Homo sapiens: one gene and its partner. The protein of the gene in region 1 interacts with the protein of each later gene in a pairwise test. Each region holds a gene or a part of one and is shown in the gene's direction. Other genes may lie near its edges.

Region 1 (8,424 bases):
TCTGTGTCCTCGCCCCGTCTTCCCTTTGTGTGTGTCTGTGTCCTCGTCCCGTCTTCCCTTTGTGTGTGTCTGTGTCCTAATCTGTTCTTATGAAAACCCCAGCCAGACTTGGTTAGAGCCTACCCTCATGACCTCGTTTCACCTTAGTGGTCTCCTTAAAGGTCCTGTCTCCATGCATAGTCACATCCTGGAGTACTGGGGGTTAGGACTTCAGCATATGAATTTAGACAATTCAGTCCATAACAGGGGTGCGGGGCCAAGGGCGGCCTTGTGGCTGGCTCAGCCTTCTGTTTCCATGCTGCTCTTAGGATCATGGAACTGGAAGGGACATGAGGAATGTTCCAGCCCAAACCCACCCACCTGCACAAAGGGGGAAACCAAGGTTTAGGGAAGGAAAAGCAGCTGTCCAGGGCCAAGGAGAGGATGTGGCAGAGCCCGAACCTGAGCCCTAGTCCCCAGACTGTGGACGGTGCAGATCCTAGTATTTGGAACAGAGACACATTTCTTCACCTAATCCAAGAATGGGCAATGATGTAGCCACAGAAACATTCATCTCAGACTTACTAGTAACAACAAAATGTTAGAAACCACCAAACCGTGGAAGCCAGTGATGGAATATGAGCCATCTGTTCCATCTCACTCACTCGTTATTCAGCAAAGATGCACAAAATGCCTACTATGAGCTGATACGGTCTGGCTGTGTCCCCACCCACATCTTACCTTGAGTTGTAATAATCCCCACGTGTCAAGGGCAGGGCCAGGTGGAGATAATTGAATCACAGGGGTGGTTTCCCCCATACTGTTCTCATGGTGGTGATTAAGGCTGGCGATAGCTGGTGGTTTTATAAAGGGCAGTTCCCCTGCACACGCTCTCTTGCCTGCTGCCATGTGAGACGTCCCTTTGCCCCTCCTTCGTCTTCCGCCATGATTGCGAGGCCTCCCTAGCCATGTGGAGCTGTAAGTCCATGAAACCTATTTCCTTTACAAATTACCCAGTCCTGGGTATGTCTTTATTGGCAGCATGAGAACAGACTAATACGTGAGCCCACGCTGCTCCAGGCCCTGGGATTCAGCAACAGACGAGAACAACCCAAAATCTATGTTCTCTTGAACTTACATTCTAATTGGGCGGTGGGGAAGATGTATATGAAGTTACTACCCACATGAAGAATTAACTACATATGTAAAGAATTTCTAATGTTAGGAGAAAATGCTTAAGAAAACAGGTTTAATTGGCCGGGTGCGGTGGCTTACGCCTGTAATCCCAGCACTTTGGGAGGCCGAGGCGGGTGGATCACAAGGTCAGGAGATTGAGACCATCCTGGCCAACATGGTGAAACCCCATCTCTACTAAAAATACAAAAATTAGCTGGGTGTGGTGGTGGGTGCCTGTAATCCCCACTACTCAGGAGGCTGAGGCAGGAGAATCGCTTGAACCAGGGAGTCAGAGGTTGCAGTGAGCTGAGATCGTGCCACTATACTCCAGCCTGGTGACAGAGCAAGACTCTGTCTCCAAAAAAAAAAAAAAAAAAGAAAAGAAAAGAAAATAAGTGGCTGGGTGCGGTGGCTCACGCCTGTAATCCCAGCACTTTGGGAGGCCGAGGCGGGTGGATCACAAGGTCAGGAGATGGAGACCATCCTGGCTAACACAGTGAAACCCCATCTCTACTAAAAATACAAAAAATTAGCTGGGCGTGGTGGCAGGTGCCTGTAGACCCAGCTACTCGGGAGGCTGAGGCAGGAGAATGGCGTGAACCTGGGAGGCAGAGCTTGCAGTGAGCCGAGATCACGCCACTGCACTCCAGCCTGGGCGACAGAGTGAGACTGTATCTCAAAAAAAAAAAAAAAAAGAAAAGAAGTTTAATTTAGAAAACAGCTCAGGACAAAATTGTATTTCATATAGGATGTCAACTCTACAGAAACAGTGAGGGAGGCAATGTCGGGAAGTGCCGTCGGTGCCCATCTGTAAGATGTGGGAGAAGGAACAAAGTTTTCCGTCTTCTGCACCTTTTTACTTTCCATGTGTTTTCCAAGTTTTCTTCATTGTGTGCCCTTTTCTTTTGTACTGAAAGATCAAATGGAAAGAAGAGAGCACACTCTGCCTCCAGCGCTGGTAGAAACCCATCACTCCGGGAGAAGCCCGGCGATTCCGTTCTGCAGGGCCACTATCTGCTGCGTGGGATGGGGGTGTCTCCCAGCATCGAGGGAGCTTAGCACAGGCAGCTGCACTGCTGCAGATTTTCCCTGCCTGACTCCACTCTGAATGAGGTGCAGCAGAAGCCAGACCCCCCTGACCCAGAAATTCATCTGAGATTGTATCTGGAGAGGACTGCCGTTGCCCAGGCATTGGCAGTCTCCGCTTAACCTGGTCACCCCCAAGCTCTGCCCTGTTCTTCCGTGATGTGCAGGGTTCCTTCCTAACCTGGCCACTCAAGATCCTTTGACTCTTTATGGTTTCTGTCAATGAGATGGTTTGGGGGTAGATAGGATATTTTGTAGAATCAAGTCTTGAGTTTGATGAACTCTTGGAAAGTTCAATCTTACTGTCCCAGAAAAAGGTGTGTGTCCCTGACTCATGGAAAAGCTGCCTGGCCCGCACCCTGGGCTTCCAGAGCATCATCTGGGTCACGGGAGACCTCTGAGCTCGAGAGGAAATTGGCAAGACTGGGAGATGAAGGGGCCTGTCTTGTCGCTGGCCCTTTAAGCGGGCACTGCCTATCCTTGAAGCCAGATCAGGCTGCTGGCCTGATGCCATCAACCAACCCCAGAGCCTAGATTCCATAGTCCCTTCCCTGCAAAGATACTTAGGGCCCTTCCTTGCTGCACCCCTTGGCTGTGCCTCTGCCTGGGTAGGGCTCCGTAAAACCTACCTTGAAGTGGGGTCTCAGGCTCACACCCAGCCCTGCCACTTGCTAGCATGATCAAAGATAAGACCTCTGTGTCCTTCTTTCCATTGCTGCCCCTCCCCAGAGTCTTGGTAGGGATTGAGGGTCTCATGAGCTGACCAGTCTCTGCCTGGCACGTGGTAGAGGCTCACAGAGGTTGTTAAAATAGTTGCAATAGGAAAACATGGGTCATGTCCTGGGATAGCTCCTAGTGCTTGAGGCTGATCACATGGGTCCTGCAGTCATCCCCGCATGATGGACGCGGCTGTCCCAGTCCCGGGGAAGCCCCGAAAGAGCAGACCTCCGAGGCTCGCACCCAGCACAGAGCAACCCGAGTCGAGCAGTCTTAATTTACTCAAGGAATTTTTCCATCGCCAGGGCTGCTCAGGGTGTCTAGGGTGTCGGGCAGCACCCAGGTGGGACAGGCTTAAATGTCGCAGAGACTGCGGCTCATCAAGTGCCGCCCTGGGGCCCTGGGCCAGATGCTCGTATAGGTTTCCTCCCGGGGTCCTCGCAGCGCTGCTCGGAGCGGCCGGTGGCATCTCTACCTACGGAGGAAGAAATGCCTGCGAGTCCCGTCTGGTGCCTGGTGTCACGTGATTTGTAAATGGCAGCGCTGGGATTTGAACCCCAGTGTGCCCGACTCAGCCGCAACACGCGTATCCCTGGCTAGGCGGGCGCTGTCTGCCTATCCCCTGCCTGCGTGCTTTAGCCGGTGGCTGTGGGGGATTGGTTGCTGCCTCATAACGCGTGGCTGAGTGTTGGTGTGGATAAAGCCTGGCCCGTTTGGGGGCATCATGATGGCGCTTCTTGGTGAGGGTCTCACACAGCCCATCTTCTCGCCTGGGCCGTGGTGTGTTATTCCCATTTTCCAGCTGCGGGACCTGCCAGCACAGAGCCAGGAGGCAGGACAAGACCCAAACCCGCCTCCTATGGGGGTTCCTGCCTAGCGTCATTGCATGGCCTCTGTGACTCACCCTCAGATAGCCTGGGCCTGAGAAGGACTTTCACCACATTGAGCCCATGTGCCCCCCTGGAACCCTGACCCTCTGCTCCGACTCCCCCACCCCCACCCCAAGTCCTGCAATCCCCCCAGGGCCCATCTGTTCCACTGAAGGCAGTGCCTCTCCCCCTGCTTACACAGCCCAGCCCAGCAGCGTCTCCAGCCCCTCGCCTGGACCTCTGTGACCTTGGACAAGTCATCGTCCCTCTGTGCCTCAGTGTACCCATCTGTAAAAACAGGGCCACTGCCATCCTCGGGGTACAACCCTGCTTTCTTCTGACACCACCGCCCCACCCCGCCCACTGTTTGGGTGTGAGGCCTGGCTGCCATTTTAGGGACCCTGCTGCGCCCACCTTTCTCATCTGGCTCTCGAGATGCTCCCAGCTGGGTGAGCAGTACTTGGGCCTCACGCTGAGGGTCTCTGGCGTGGAGGGAGGTGCCTTGCCGCCTGTGGATTAGCAGCTTCTGTGGATGTCTGCCTGGAGCTCGAGCTAGGAGGGCAGCTGGGTCCCTCGCGTCTGTGGGAAGGACTGGGGCGGAGGAGGGGGCTTTGGATTCTGGGACGCTCACTGGTCCTTGTGGGTGCCAGGGCTGGCTCTGGGGCTTCTCGCCATCAGCAGCTTCCAGGCCTACAACAAACAGGTCTGCTGCGGATAACGAGCTGGGTGGCTTCATGTCACTTCCCTTGGCTGAACATTTCCAAATGTGAGGGGGCCAGTCTGGGTGCCTCAGAAGATGCACTGGCTTTGGGGCTGGGCACACCTGGGCTCCAGCCCCAATCGTCACTTGCTAGTTGTGTGTTTCTCCAAGCGGATTGTTTAAATGCCCTTTGCCTTAGTTTCCCCACATAAAAAGTACAGGTGATGACAGCTGCTTTTGAGGGGTTACTGTAGACTCAGAGATGCTGAGTGAGAGTCAAGGGCCTGGGCACGGCAGGCACCAGGGAACGGGCAGAATGGCCTTTGTCACAGCTGTAAATACCCTTCACAGCTCAGGGACAAACCTGACGTCGTGCCCCGTGGGAGCCGCTTTGGCATCATCAGCCACACCCTAGGCTGGGTTCATAGCTTCCCCTCCCCTTCTCTGGTCCTGCTGTCTCCCCTGCCAGCCCCATCTCAGTCCTGGTTACAAGGCTGCAGCCCAGTGCCAGGAGAAGCACCGTCTCCAGAGAGCCACCCAGCTCCCGGTTTTCTCGGCACAGCATCCTCAGGAGGCGTGGTGTCTTGAGTCATCGGTCTCAGCTCGAAGCTTCATTTTAGCTGCATTCTACTGAGCAGCCCCCATCCCAGGCAGCAGCAGTGGCTCCTCCCGCCTCCGGCACGGAGCTCGCACCCTGTGCTGGAAGTTTGGGACTTTGGTTTCTCTGTGCTTAGAGAGACGAGTTAGAGAGACGATCTGGAAATGTGAGTCCAGCCAGCGCACCAAGAAAAGTGCTCAGTGTCACTGCGGCTAGCATGCTGCCTCTGTCCTCGCTGGCGTCTGTCCTCAGGGCACGATGGGGCCTTGTACTGGCTCCCCTGAAAGCCACTCAGGTAGAATGAGAGGAGGCATTTCGTGAACACCCAAGGAGTGGAGGATGTGTGATGGGTGGAACTCCGTCCCCAGTTCAGCATGGCCTCCTCATCTGTCTGCCGTCATTCCATAAGACAGCCTGGCCTGTCTCTCTGACCCTCTGCTTCTGCAGACCTCAGTGTCCCCGGGATCGCACATGGAAAATGACATCAGTTGATGCTGCAGCTGGACACGAAGTGCCCAGAAGGAAGAATTCCAAGGAGCATCCAGACCTTCAACCTGGCAGCCTAGTTTCAAATGCCCTCATGATGTTCCAACCCCTTTGCCCCACAACTCTCTCCATTTAGGCTCCCTGAGTAGGTGCAGTGGGAACTTGGGTGCAGGTGGTTTACCTAGGAGGTGACCCCAGGAAGCACGAGGGAGGTGTGAGGAGGGTAAGGGGGGAAGGGAGGGGAAGCCAGGAGGGGGCATTTGGATGGGGGCCACCACTCTGGCAAGTGGGGACTCAGTCCCACTGGGAGCCTCTGAATCGTCCCACAGAGGGACCGGCTGTGTGGGGTCTTACTCCATAGGCCCCGTCCTGTCTGGGCGCAGGGCCAGTCCTGAGTGTGAGGTGCTGGGGAAGTCTCAGCCTAGGTCCGGGCCTTCTCTGTGTCCAGCAGTCAACAGCCTCCCAAGGGCTCAGAGCTCTTCCAGAATGTCCCTTCTGTCCCTCCACGACTATTTATTAAGCACCTACTATGTGCTGTCTTTGCCCTGATCCCCCAACAGCCTTGCATTCTTCCTGCCGCCTTCTGCCTGCCCCCGCTCCCCTGGAGTCCCTCCTCCTCTCCCTTTCAAGGCTCTGCCGGACTCCAGGGCCTCTGTGAAGCTTTCTTCCCATCTCTAGGCCCTCTGCTTCCCTCCTTCCTCTGAACCTGTGGACACAGACCAAGCTGGGGTTTCCTGTGGAGATTTGTGCCTGCTCCTGCCTGCTCTGCAGCCTGGAGCTGGGACCTGCCCTCTCTGAAATACCTCCTCTTGGATGGTGTTGGGGGGCTGAACAGTGGACTCAAAGGTGCCCATGTCCTAATCCCAGGCCCTGTGACTATGTGACCTCATGCGGCAAAATGACTGTTCATATGCGACTATGTGAAGGATTTTGCCACAGGGAGACTGCTCTGGATTTCAGGGGGCCTGAGGCTTCTCGCTAACGGGAGGCAGGAGGCAGCAGAGAGGAGAGAGAAGTCTCCACGCCTGGCTCTGAGGATGAAGGGAGGGGCCCCACACCAAGAAACTCGGGTGCCCCTAGAAGCTGGAAGAGGCACGGAAGTGGATCTCCCCCGGAGCCTCCAGATGGCCCCAGCCCTACAGACCCCTTCACACTCTGGCTGGATCTGCCCTGGTATCTGGGGACCCCAGATCTCAGCGTGGCCTGACTCTCCGTAGTGTCTGGGGACCCTGGGCCTTGGCACAGCTGGACTCTCCCTGGTGCCTCCAGATCCCGGGTCCTGGCGTGGCCTGATCTCCCGGGTGCCTGCGGAGCCCAGGTTTCTTGGTACATCAGCAGCTCTGGGAGGAGATAGGGGTGGTCTCATGGAGAGGTGGGGGTCCAGGAACCAGCCCAGGCCATGTACCCCCTGAGCCTTGGCCTCCTCATCTCTGTTGGGGTTGGGCTTGTCCTAGAGGATCTTTCCGACTCTGAGTTCCTGTGTGGTTTGGGGCAATGGACACCTTGGGATGTAGCATTTGCTTCCAGGCAAGCAGGACTCTGCTGTGCATGCCCACGGGGGAACGGCTTACGCGCTTCCCCAGTGTGGACCCAGCACCGCGATGTGCTTTCACCCTATAATCCTTACATCAGAGCTCCTTGCTCGGGACTACCAGTATTCCCACTTCACAGGTGAGCAAACGGAGGCCCAGGGAATTAGGTAACTCTCCCGAGGTGATTCGGCTGAGAAGCACCGTGCCAGCTGCAGAACCCGCACTCCTAACTGTGGTGCGCCATGGCCCCCCCGCGTCCTGAGCGGCTCCCTCACCTCCTGTGGGCCCTGCTTCACTGTAGGCCCAGAGCCCCCTCTGGAATCCAGTGGGGAGGCCTCCGCAGGCCCACAGTGCTGCTTAGGTCACCTGCAGCTGCAGCCCTCTCATCCACCAGCTCATCCTCTCCCCTCCAGACACACTGGGCCCTTCAGAACCTGCCTGGCCCAGGGCCCCCACAGGAGAGCTTCTGCTGCACCGCCGCCACGTCTTCCTTTTCTCCCTCTGCCCCTGCCTCCTGCCACTCCAAACCCCTTCTCTGCCGGGGAAGGTGCGCATGGTGGGCTTTGGTGAGGGGTTTCTCCCCCAGCAAGGTCGGGCCACTATCCCTTGTTGCCTGCCCACCTGGGCCTCAGGGAACCACACCAGAGTTTGGGGTTGGTCTGCAGCTGGGCCCTGACTCGTGCCCCTTCTTCTGGGATATTGGGCCTAGGGCTGACTTCGTGATTAAAGGGCGATTCACCCATTAAAGAAAGGGTTTTGTGCAGGTCCGTGCCTCGCTCAGGGAAGATGGCACAACCAGAGTGCTGGGCAAAGGCCACCTGTGAGTGTCTAGGGGCTGCGGTCACCAGTGACCACAAGCTGGGAGGCTTAAAGCAAGAGAAGGCATTTCCTCCCAGCTCTGGAGGCCAGCAGTTCAATGTCAGTGTCCGAGGCTAAACGGCGCTGGCAGCTCCCTCGGGGGCTCAGGGGAGGCTCAGTCCTCACCCCTGCAGCTTTGGTGGCTGCCAGATTCTGAGGTTTGTGGCCACGTTGCTCCAATCTTCAAGGCAGAGTCTTCAAACCTCCCTCAGCTCCATCTTCATGCTACTTCTCCCCTGTGTGTGTCGTCTCCCGCTCCCTCCTCCCCATAAGGACTCTTGAGATTGCACTCAGAGCCCGCCCATAGCATCCAGAATCATCTCCCAGTCTCTAGACGCTTTATGTAAATCACATCTGCAAAGACCCCTCCCCTTTTAACCATATATGTCACAGGTTTTAGCGATTAGATGGGGATATCTTCTG
Region 2 (8,424 bases), on another chromosome or scaffold:
TGTAAACCTAGTTCTGCTGCTGCTATCTCTTTTTTTTTTTTTTTTTTGAGACGGAGTCTCGCTCTGTCACCTAGGCTGGAGTGCAGTGGCATGATCTCCGCTCACTGCTCCGCCTCCCGGGTTCATGCCATTCTCCTGCCTCAGCCTGCTGAGTAGCTGGGACTACAGGCGCCCGCCACCACGCCCGGCTAATTTTTTTGTATTTTTAGTAGAGATGGGGTTTCACCTTGTTAGCCAGGATGGTCTCGATCTCCTGACCTCATGATCCTCCCGCCTCGGCCTCCCAAAGTGCTGGGATTACAGGCGTGAGCCACCACACCCGGCCTGCTATCTCTTCTTGTTTCCCAGAATTATTTTAGAAAATAATATATCAAATATATCAATAAACCCACACCCTTTTTTTTTTTTTTTTGAGGTGGAGTTTTGCTCTGTCACCCAGGCTGTAGTGCAGTAGTGCTGTCTTGGCTCACTGAAACCTCCACCTCCCGGGTTCAAGCAATTCTCCTGCCTCAGCCTCCTGAGTAGCTATGATTACAGGTGCCCGCCACCACGCCCGGCTAATTTTGTATTTTTAGTAGAGATGGGGGTTTCACCATGTTGGCCAGGCTGGTCTTGAACTCCTGACCTCAGGTGATCTGCCCTCCTCATCCTCCCAAAGTGCTGGGATTACAGGTGTGAGCCACCGTGCCCGGCCTAAACCCACATCTTTAGTAATTTCTACGATTTAGATTGGGAGGGGAAGCATGTACAGATGCTTTTTGACTTACGATGTTTATGCTACATTCCATAAACCCATCAGAAGTTCAAAATACTGTAAATCAGGCTGGGCGCAGTGGTTCACACTTGTAATCCCAGCACTTTGGGAGGCTGACCTGGGTGGACTGCTTGAGCCCAGGAGTTCAAGACCAGCCTGGCAACATGGGGAAACCCTGTTTCTACAAAAAATACAAAAATTAGGTGGGTGTGGTGGCATGCACCTTTAGTCCCAGCTGCTCAGGAGGCTGAGATAGGAGGATTACTTGAGCCCAGGAGGCAGAGGTTGCAGTGAGCTGAGATTGTGGCGTTGCATTCTAGCCTGGGTGACAGTGAGACCTTACCTCAAAAAAGAGAAAAAGAAAATACTGTAAGTCAAAATGCATTTAATATACCCAGCCTATTGAACATCATAGCTTAGCCAAACCTACCTTAAATGTGCTTAGAACCCTTATATTAGCCTACAGTTGGGCAAAATCTTCTAGCATAAAGCTAGATGATTTAATAATGAATAATATAAAAGATAATTATTTTACAATAAAATGTCGAATATCTTGTAATTTATTGAATACTGTACTAAAAATAAAAAAAACAATAAATACTTGAAGTAGAGTTTCTACTGAATGCTTATTGCACCATTGTAAATTTGAAAAATCATTACTTTGAGCCCTCATTAAATTGGGACCTTCCATATGTCTGTGCAGTCCACTTTGATCCAATCTCTTCAGGCCTTTTTTTTCTTTGAGACGGAGTGTCACTCTGTCGCCAGGCTAGAGTGCAGTGGTGCGATCTTGGCTCACTGCAGCTTCTGCCTCATGGGTTCAAGCGATTCTCCTGCCTCAGCCTCCGGAGTAGCTGGGACTACAAGCGCACGCCACCACAGCCAGCTGATTTCTGTATTTTTAGTAGAGATAGTTTCACCATGTTGGCCAGGATGATCTTGGTCTCTTGACCTTGTGATTCACCTGCCTTAGCCTCCCCAAGTGTTGGGATTACAGGCGTGAGCCACCGTGCCCAGCCCTGCCTTTTTTTTTTTTTTTTTTTTTTGAGACAGAGCCTCACTCTGTCGCCCAGGCTGGAGTGCAGTGGTGTGATCTCAGCTCACTGCAGTCTCCACCTCCCAGGTTGAAGCAGTTCTGGTTTAGATTTCCTGAGTAGCTGGTACTACAGGTGCACGTCACCATGCCTGGCTAATTTTTGTTTTAGTAGAGATGGGGTTTTACCATATTGGTCAGGCTGGTCTCAAACTTCTGACCTCAGGTGATCCACCCACCTTGGCCTCCCAAAGTGTTGAAATTACAGGTGTGAGCCACTGCGCTTGGCCTAAAGGACATTTTGGGAACCGGTGTTAATGTCTATTGAAACCTTTTATTTTTGGAATATCAGATTTTGAAAGATAAATTGACCATTGGAGGTTATATGTTACATAGGTTTGGGAATTTCCTGTTTCTAGTTTGCTGCTAAACCAGAACTCTGAAGTCTCAATGTTTTTTTTTAAGCCGATAGGAAAGAGAGATTTTCATTCTGAATCTTTGTTTTTCACAGTTGAGGCTTACGAGTAGTCATCTTGTTATTTTTAAAACACTTCATAGTGCGGTTTGCGCTTGTCTGACAGAATGGTTGGGTTGGCTCAATACTTTGATATTTTTCTTTTTCGTCTTTGCCGTAGTATTTTTTTTTTAAGTTATGCATCTAAATCAAGACAGAATCACATTTCTTTGCCCCAAAACCCTTTTGCCTAGAATTATGTTCTTTGGAAACCCTAGCGTTTGAAATAAGTTGCTACTGTGGTAAGGGTAAATTTAATTTTCAGAAAAAAGCTGTTCTGACTTATTTTTCTTCCCCATTTAGTTTTTCCATGGTTTGGACTGGATATCGGTGGAACTCTGGTCAAGCTGGTATATTTTGAACCCAAAGACATCACTGCTGAAGAAGAAGAGGAAGAAGTGGAAAGTCTTAAAAGCATTCGGAAGTACCTGACCTCCAATGTGGCTTATGGGTCTACAGGCATTCGGGACGTGCACCTCGAGCTGAAGGACCTGACTCTGTGTGGACGCAAAGGCAATCTGCACTTTATACGCTTTCCCACTCATGACATGCCTGCTTTTATTCAAATGGGCAGAGATAAAAACTTCTCGAGTCTCCACACTGTCTTTTGTGCCACTGGAGGTGGAGCGTACAAATTTGAGCAGGATTTTCTCACAGTATGCATTTTTTAGCTTATATACAATTTATGGTAATTTGATTGTTAAAAATAATGCCAGTAGCAAGTGGTGAAATAATTTCCATCTCTAATGGAACTTGAATTTTCTTGAGTCAAATGAAGATTAAAGGTACGCTAGTGATAGGAGTTGGCCATCTAGAGGTGGTTGTCTAGTTCAGATGTATGGACGACAATCAGAACCACTAAAAGGGTAGCATTTTATTGCTCCTTTAGTATGAAAAATTAGGGCATCTGCTATACGTTGAGGAAGAAACTACCTAAAAGGAACATCATTAGATCATGAACAATGAGATTGAAATATAATTAAAATCATTTCATGTCATAAAATTGTTTTCAGTCTTGTCTACCACATAATTTCTCTTGTCTCCCTCAGTTGTTTGCTGGCATGTTCACTAACTGAAAAAAATAAGGAACTCTGGTCAAAAGTGGTGTTTTCAGGCTCAGGGCTGGTCTGAGATGGGTGACTGCAGAGCCCTCCTCTCCCAGAATGCTTTCTGATGTGTTCTGTGCTGCACACTTAACTGGAGTCTCGCCACCATGTCTGGCCCCTGGGGAATGCTGCCAGGCGCTCTATCTTGCTTTCATTGAGTGAACACTGGAGAACATTGTGAGCAAGACCTTGAGGCTAGGTCCTTTCAGGGTGGATGGTGGGGGTAGGCCGGAGAACTGACAAATGAATAAGCCAAGATCCTGACCGTCAGGGTGCAATACAGATTGAAAATGTCTTCAGTGACTGACTGTTTTTCTGTTGCTAAATGAGAGAATATTAGTCTGAAAGAGATTCTGCCTTTTTGTTTTGTTTTGTTTTCTTGAGATGGAGTTTTGTTCTTGTTCCCAGGCTGGAATGCAATGGCTCAACACAACCTCCACCTCTCGGGTTCAAGCGATTCTCCTGCTTCAGCCTCCCAAGTAGCTGGGATTACAGGCATGTGCCACCACGCCCGGCTAATTTTGTATTTTTAGTAGAGACAGGGTTTCTCCATGTTGGTCAGGCTGGTCTCGAACTCCTGATCTCAGGTGATCTGCCTGCTTCAGCCTCCCAAAGTGCTGGGATTACAGGGGTGAGTCACCTTGCCCGGCCCAGATTCTGCCTGTTATTCTGCATGTCTTTTAGTAGAGATGGGGTTTCACCATGTTGTCCAGGCTGGTCTGGAACACCTGACCTCAAGTGATCTGCCTGCCTCGGCCTCCCAAAGTGTTGGAATTACAGGTGTGAGCCACCGTTCCTGGCCTCAACTTTTTGACTAACATGCCTTGGAGTTCTTCCCACTTCAGAACATAAAGATCCTCTTCATTTTTGTTTTGTTTTGAGACGGAGTCTCGCCCTGTCACCTAGGTTGGAGTGCAGTGGTGCCATCTCAGCTCACTGCAACCTCTGCCTCCTGGGTTCAAGAGATTCTCCTGCCTCAGCCTCCCGAGTAGCTGGGTTTACAGGCGTGCACCACCATACCCAGCTAATTTTTTTTTTTATCTTTAGTAGAGACTGGGTTTCACCATGTTGGCCAGGCTGATCTTGAACTCCTGACCTTGTGATCCACCTGTCTCAGCCTCCCAAAGTGCTGGGATTATAGGCGTGAGCCACCGTGCCCGGCCGATCCTCTTCATTTTTAGTTGCTATACAGTGCTCCATAATACGAATAATAATTTAGTCATTCCTTTATTATTTAAATGGAATTAATTGATTATGAAACAGTTCAAATTTTGACTGCTAAAATTCCCCTCCCTCCCAAGAGGCTGTAGCTAGTTTAGATAGTGAAAAAAATCTTACCTTCTAACTGGATACTTTCAGCCTTTTGGCTTCAGTTTGTTAAATAATGTGTGGCCTCTTTTGATACTGCTCCAAAGCCTTGAGATGGTCCTCTGTCACAGTCCTTGTGGCTCCCACCCTGTGTCACAAGGTGGTTTCTGATAGTGCTGTGGCCTGAGCTTGGTATCAGCCCCATTGTCCCTGTAAGCAGAGATCTGAATTTCTGTTTGAAGGTTGATAAATGCTGTGGTTTTTTTTTTTTGTTTTTTTTGTTTTTTTTTTGGTCACACTTATTCAGCTGCTGCAGTAGTTTCTATGTAGAGTGTATTTGGGTCTGTAGTAGCAGGAGTCTGTCTCAGCACTGTGTCCCTAGGTTTGCTCCTAAATCTGTTCTGTAAAGCATGCACAAATAATACACATCTGTGAGTGCACTTTCATGGTTGTTTCACGTAGTGGGGATGCCTTATTGAATGGAATTTTTGTTTCTGTTGGCTTATTAAAAAGTCTGAGTACATTCTTATTTCATTACAGATAGGTGATCTTCAGCTTTGCAAACTGGATGAACTAGATTGCTTGATCAAAGGAATTTTATACATTGACTCAGTCGGATTCAATGGACGGTCACAGTGCTATTACTTTGAAAACCCTGCTGATTCTGAAAAGTGTCAGAAGTTACCATTTGATTTGAAAAATCCGTATCCTCTGCTTCTGGTGAACATTGGCTCAGGGGTTAGCATCTTAGCAGTATATTCCAAAGATAATTACAAACGGGTCACAGGTACTAGGTAAGTTGTATATAAAACTCACTGTTTATTCTTAGTATCCTAACGGGCTGAGTTTTCAGGTATTACATGTAACTACACCTTCAAGAACCTGTTAGGTGAAAGTGTTTCTGGATTATGCAAACAAATGTTTCTCTTTGAAAATTCTGATTTTATGACCTAGTTTTCTTTAATCTCTACTGTTCAAGATTTATTATCCTAGGTGTTTCTTAAAAGATCACATCAGCAGACTCATTGTAGCCTTTGCCCTCAGATAGTTTATGGTGTGCATACACAAAGTAGCTAAAGTTATTAGGCAGCATCTGTAAGGAGAAGGCACGGGAAAGGACCTAGCTCTGAAACCTGTGTAAATTTCATGCTTCCACACACATGTGTGTGTAGAATAATGATGTATTCTATGTATGTGATTTAGAAGTTGATATGTACTGATCAGTAGAAAAATTATTGAGGGAAGGTAGTATGAAAAGAGAGGATTAGCCGGGCGTGGTGGCTCATGCCTGTAATCCCAGCACTTTGGGAGGCTGGGGCGGGTGGATCATGAGGTCAGGAGTTCAAGACCAGCCTGGCCAACATGGTGAAACCCCATCTCTACTAAAAATACAAAAATTAGCCGGGCGCAGTGGCAGGCGCCTGTGAATCCCAGCTACTCGGGAGGCTGAGGTGGGAGAATTGCTTGAATTCAGAGGGTGGAGGTTGCAGTAAGCCGAGATTATGCCACTGCACTCCAGCCTGGGTGACAGAGTGAGACTCCGTCTCAAAAAAAAAAGAAAAGAGAGTATTAGGGCCAGGCACGGCAGCTTATGCCTGTAATCCCAGCACTTTGGGAGGCCGAGGCGGGTGGATCACCAGAGGTCGGGAGTTCGAGACCAGCCTGGCCAACATGGAGAAACCCCATCTCTACTAAAAATACAAAATTAGCCGGGCGTGGTGGCACATGCCTGTAATCCCATATACTTGGGAGGCTGAGGCAGAAAAATCACTTGAACCAGGAGGCAAAGGTTGCGGTGAGCCGAGATCGTGCCATTGTACTCTAGCCTGGGCAAAAAGAGCTAAACTCCATCTCAAAAAAAAAAAATGAGGATTAGATGGAAGAAGAGAATGTTTCGGCTTAAGGGTCAGAGGTCACTTCAGGAAAAACAGGCATCTAGGGATTGGGATAAACAATTTTTTTAAAAAAACAGTTGTGATTTAAATAGAGGAGTAATTTTTTTGTGACAAAACACGTTGCAGGAGGAGTATGTTTGGGGGTGTACTGATAAGCCAGGGTGACAAGGTGCTTGGATGAGAATGACTCAGGGAATGTACTTGGAGAAGGGAAAGGGAGGAGGTGTTAGCATGGCCCCAGGCGTGTCAGGCTAATTTGCACCTGAGGCTCTTCATACTTGGCAGACAGCCAGACTGCACTGGGGACATGGGCCCTGTGTTTTGTACTTTGCATGTTGGCTCACATGCATATGTACCTTAAAGGTGTATATCAGGCACCTTATCTTTTCACAGACTTGTTTCCTACCAGTGGCATTTGCATGATTGGGTTGGATATGTGAATATGGTTTTGGGGTTCATAAATGTTAACTTCTTGTTCTTATTTTTAAAAATGTTATAATACTGTGTTAATTGTTTTTAATCATAGTCTTGGAGGAGGAACTTTTTTTGGTCTCTGCTGTCTTCTTACTGGCTGTACCACTTTTGAAGAAGCTCTTGAAATGGCATCTCGTGGAGATAGCACCAAAGTGGATAAACTAGTACGAGATATTTATGGAGGGGACTATGAGAGGTTTGGACTGCCAGGCTGGGCTGTGGCTTCAAGGTAAGGGGGCATGTGTGTTCTAAGAAATACAGGCGGGCCGGGCGCGGTGGCTCATGCCTTTAATCCCAAAACTTTGAGAGGCCGAGATGGGCAGATCATGAGGTCAGGAGTTTGAGACCAGCCTGGCCAACATAGTGTAACCCTGTCTCTACTAAAAATACAAAAATTAGCTAGGCATGGTGGTGCGCGCCTGTAGACCCAGGTACTTGGGAGGCTGAGGCAGGAGAATCACTTGAACCCTGGAGGTGGAGGGTGCGGTGAGCTCCAGCCTAGGTAACGGAGTGAGACTCTGTCTCAAAAAAAAAAAAAAAAAAAAAAAAGACATAAAATAATAATATTGGGCATATTTTTTAAAAAAGCTCTATTGAGATATAATTTACGTACTATAAAGTCAGCTGTTTGAAGCGTACAATTTAGTGGTTTCTAGTATATTTACAGGATTGTGCAACCATCACTGTAATCCCAATTTTAGGACATTTTTATCATCCTAGAAAGAAACCTTGTGTTCATTAGCTACGACTCTCCATTCCCCCCACAGCCCCTGCCAAACAGTAATTTATTTTCAATGTAGGTTTGCCTCTTCTGAACATTTCATATAAGTGGTATCATACAGTATATGATCTTTTGTGATTACTTCTTCATATAGCATATGTTTTCAAACATTCACATTACAGTGTGAATCAGTACTTTATTCCTTTTTATTGCCAAATAATATTTCTTTTTTCTGAGACGGCGTTTTACTCTTTTTGCCCAGGCTGGAGTGCAATGGCGTGATCTCGGCTCACCACAACCCCCACCTCCCAGGTTCAAGCAATTCTCCTGCCTCAGCCTCCTGAGTAGCTGGGATTACAGGCATGCGCCACCAAGCCTGGCTAATTTTGTATTTTTTAGTAGGGAAAGGATTTCTCCATGTTGGCCGGGCAGGTCTCGAACTCAGGTGATCTGCCGCCTCAGCCTCCCAAAGTGCTAGGATTACAGGTGTGAGCCACCGCGCCCGGCTGCCACATAATATTTCATTACGTGGATAATACTACATTTTATCCATTTATTGGTTGATGAACATTTGGGTTGTTTCCATTTTTTGGTTATAATGTTGAACATTTATATGTAA

The links.
Region 2: the proteins of ABLIM2 (region 1) and PANK2 interact in binary tests that used the Homo sapiens proteins (3 or more experiments, as listed by UniProt).

The regions. Positions count from the first base shown.
Region 1 is NC_000004.12:8,147,390-8,155,813, reverse strand, and holds part of ABLIM2 (actin-binding LIM protein 2), read left to right. Parts: intron 1-8,424. UniProt on the Homo sapiens protein: May act as scaffold protein. May stimulate ABRA activity and ABRA-dependent SRF transcriptional activity.
Region 2 is NC_000020.11:3,905,322-3,913,745, forward strand, and holds part of PANK2 (pantothenate kinase 2, mitochondrial isoform 7 precursor), read left to right. Parts: intron 1-2,604; coding exon 2,605-2,957; coding exon of another isoform or gene 2,958-2,972; exon of another isoform or gene 2,973-3,304; intron 3,305-5,255; coding exon 5,256-5,509; intron 5,510-7,136; coding exon 7,137-7,313; intron 7,314-8,424.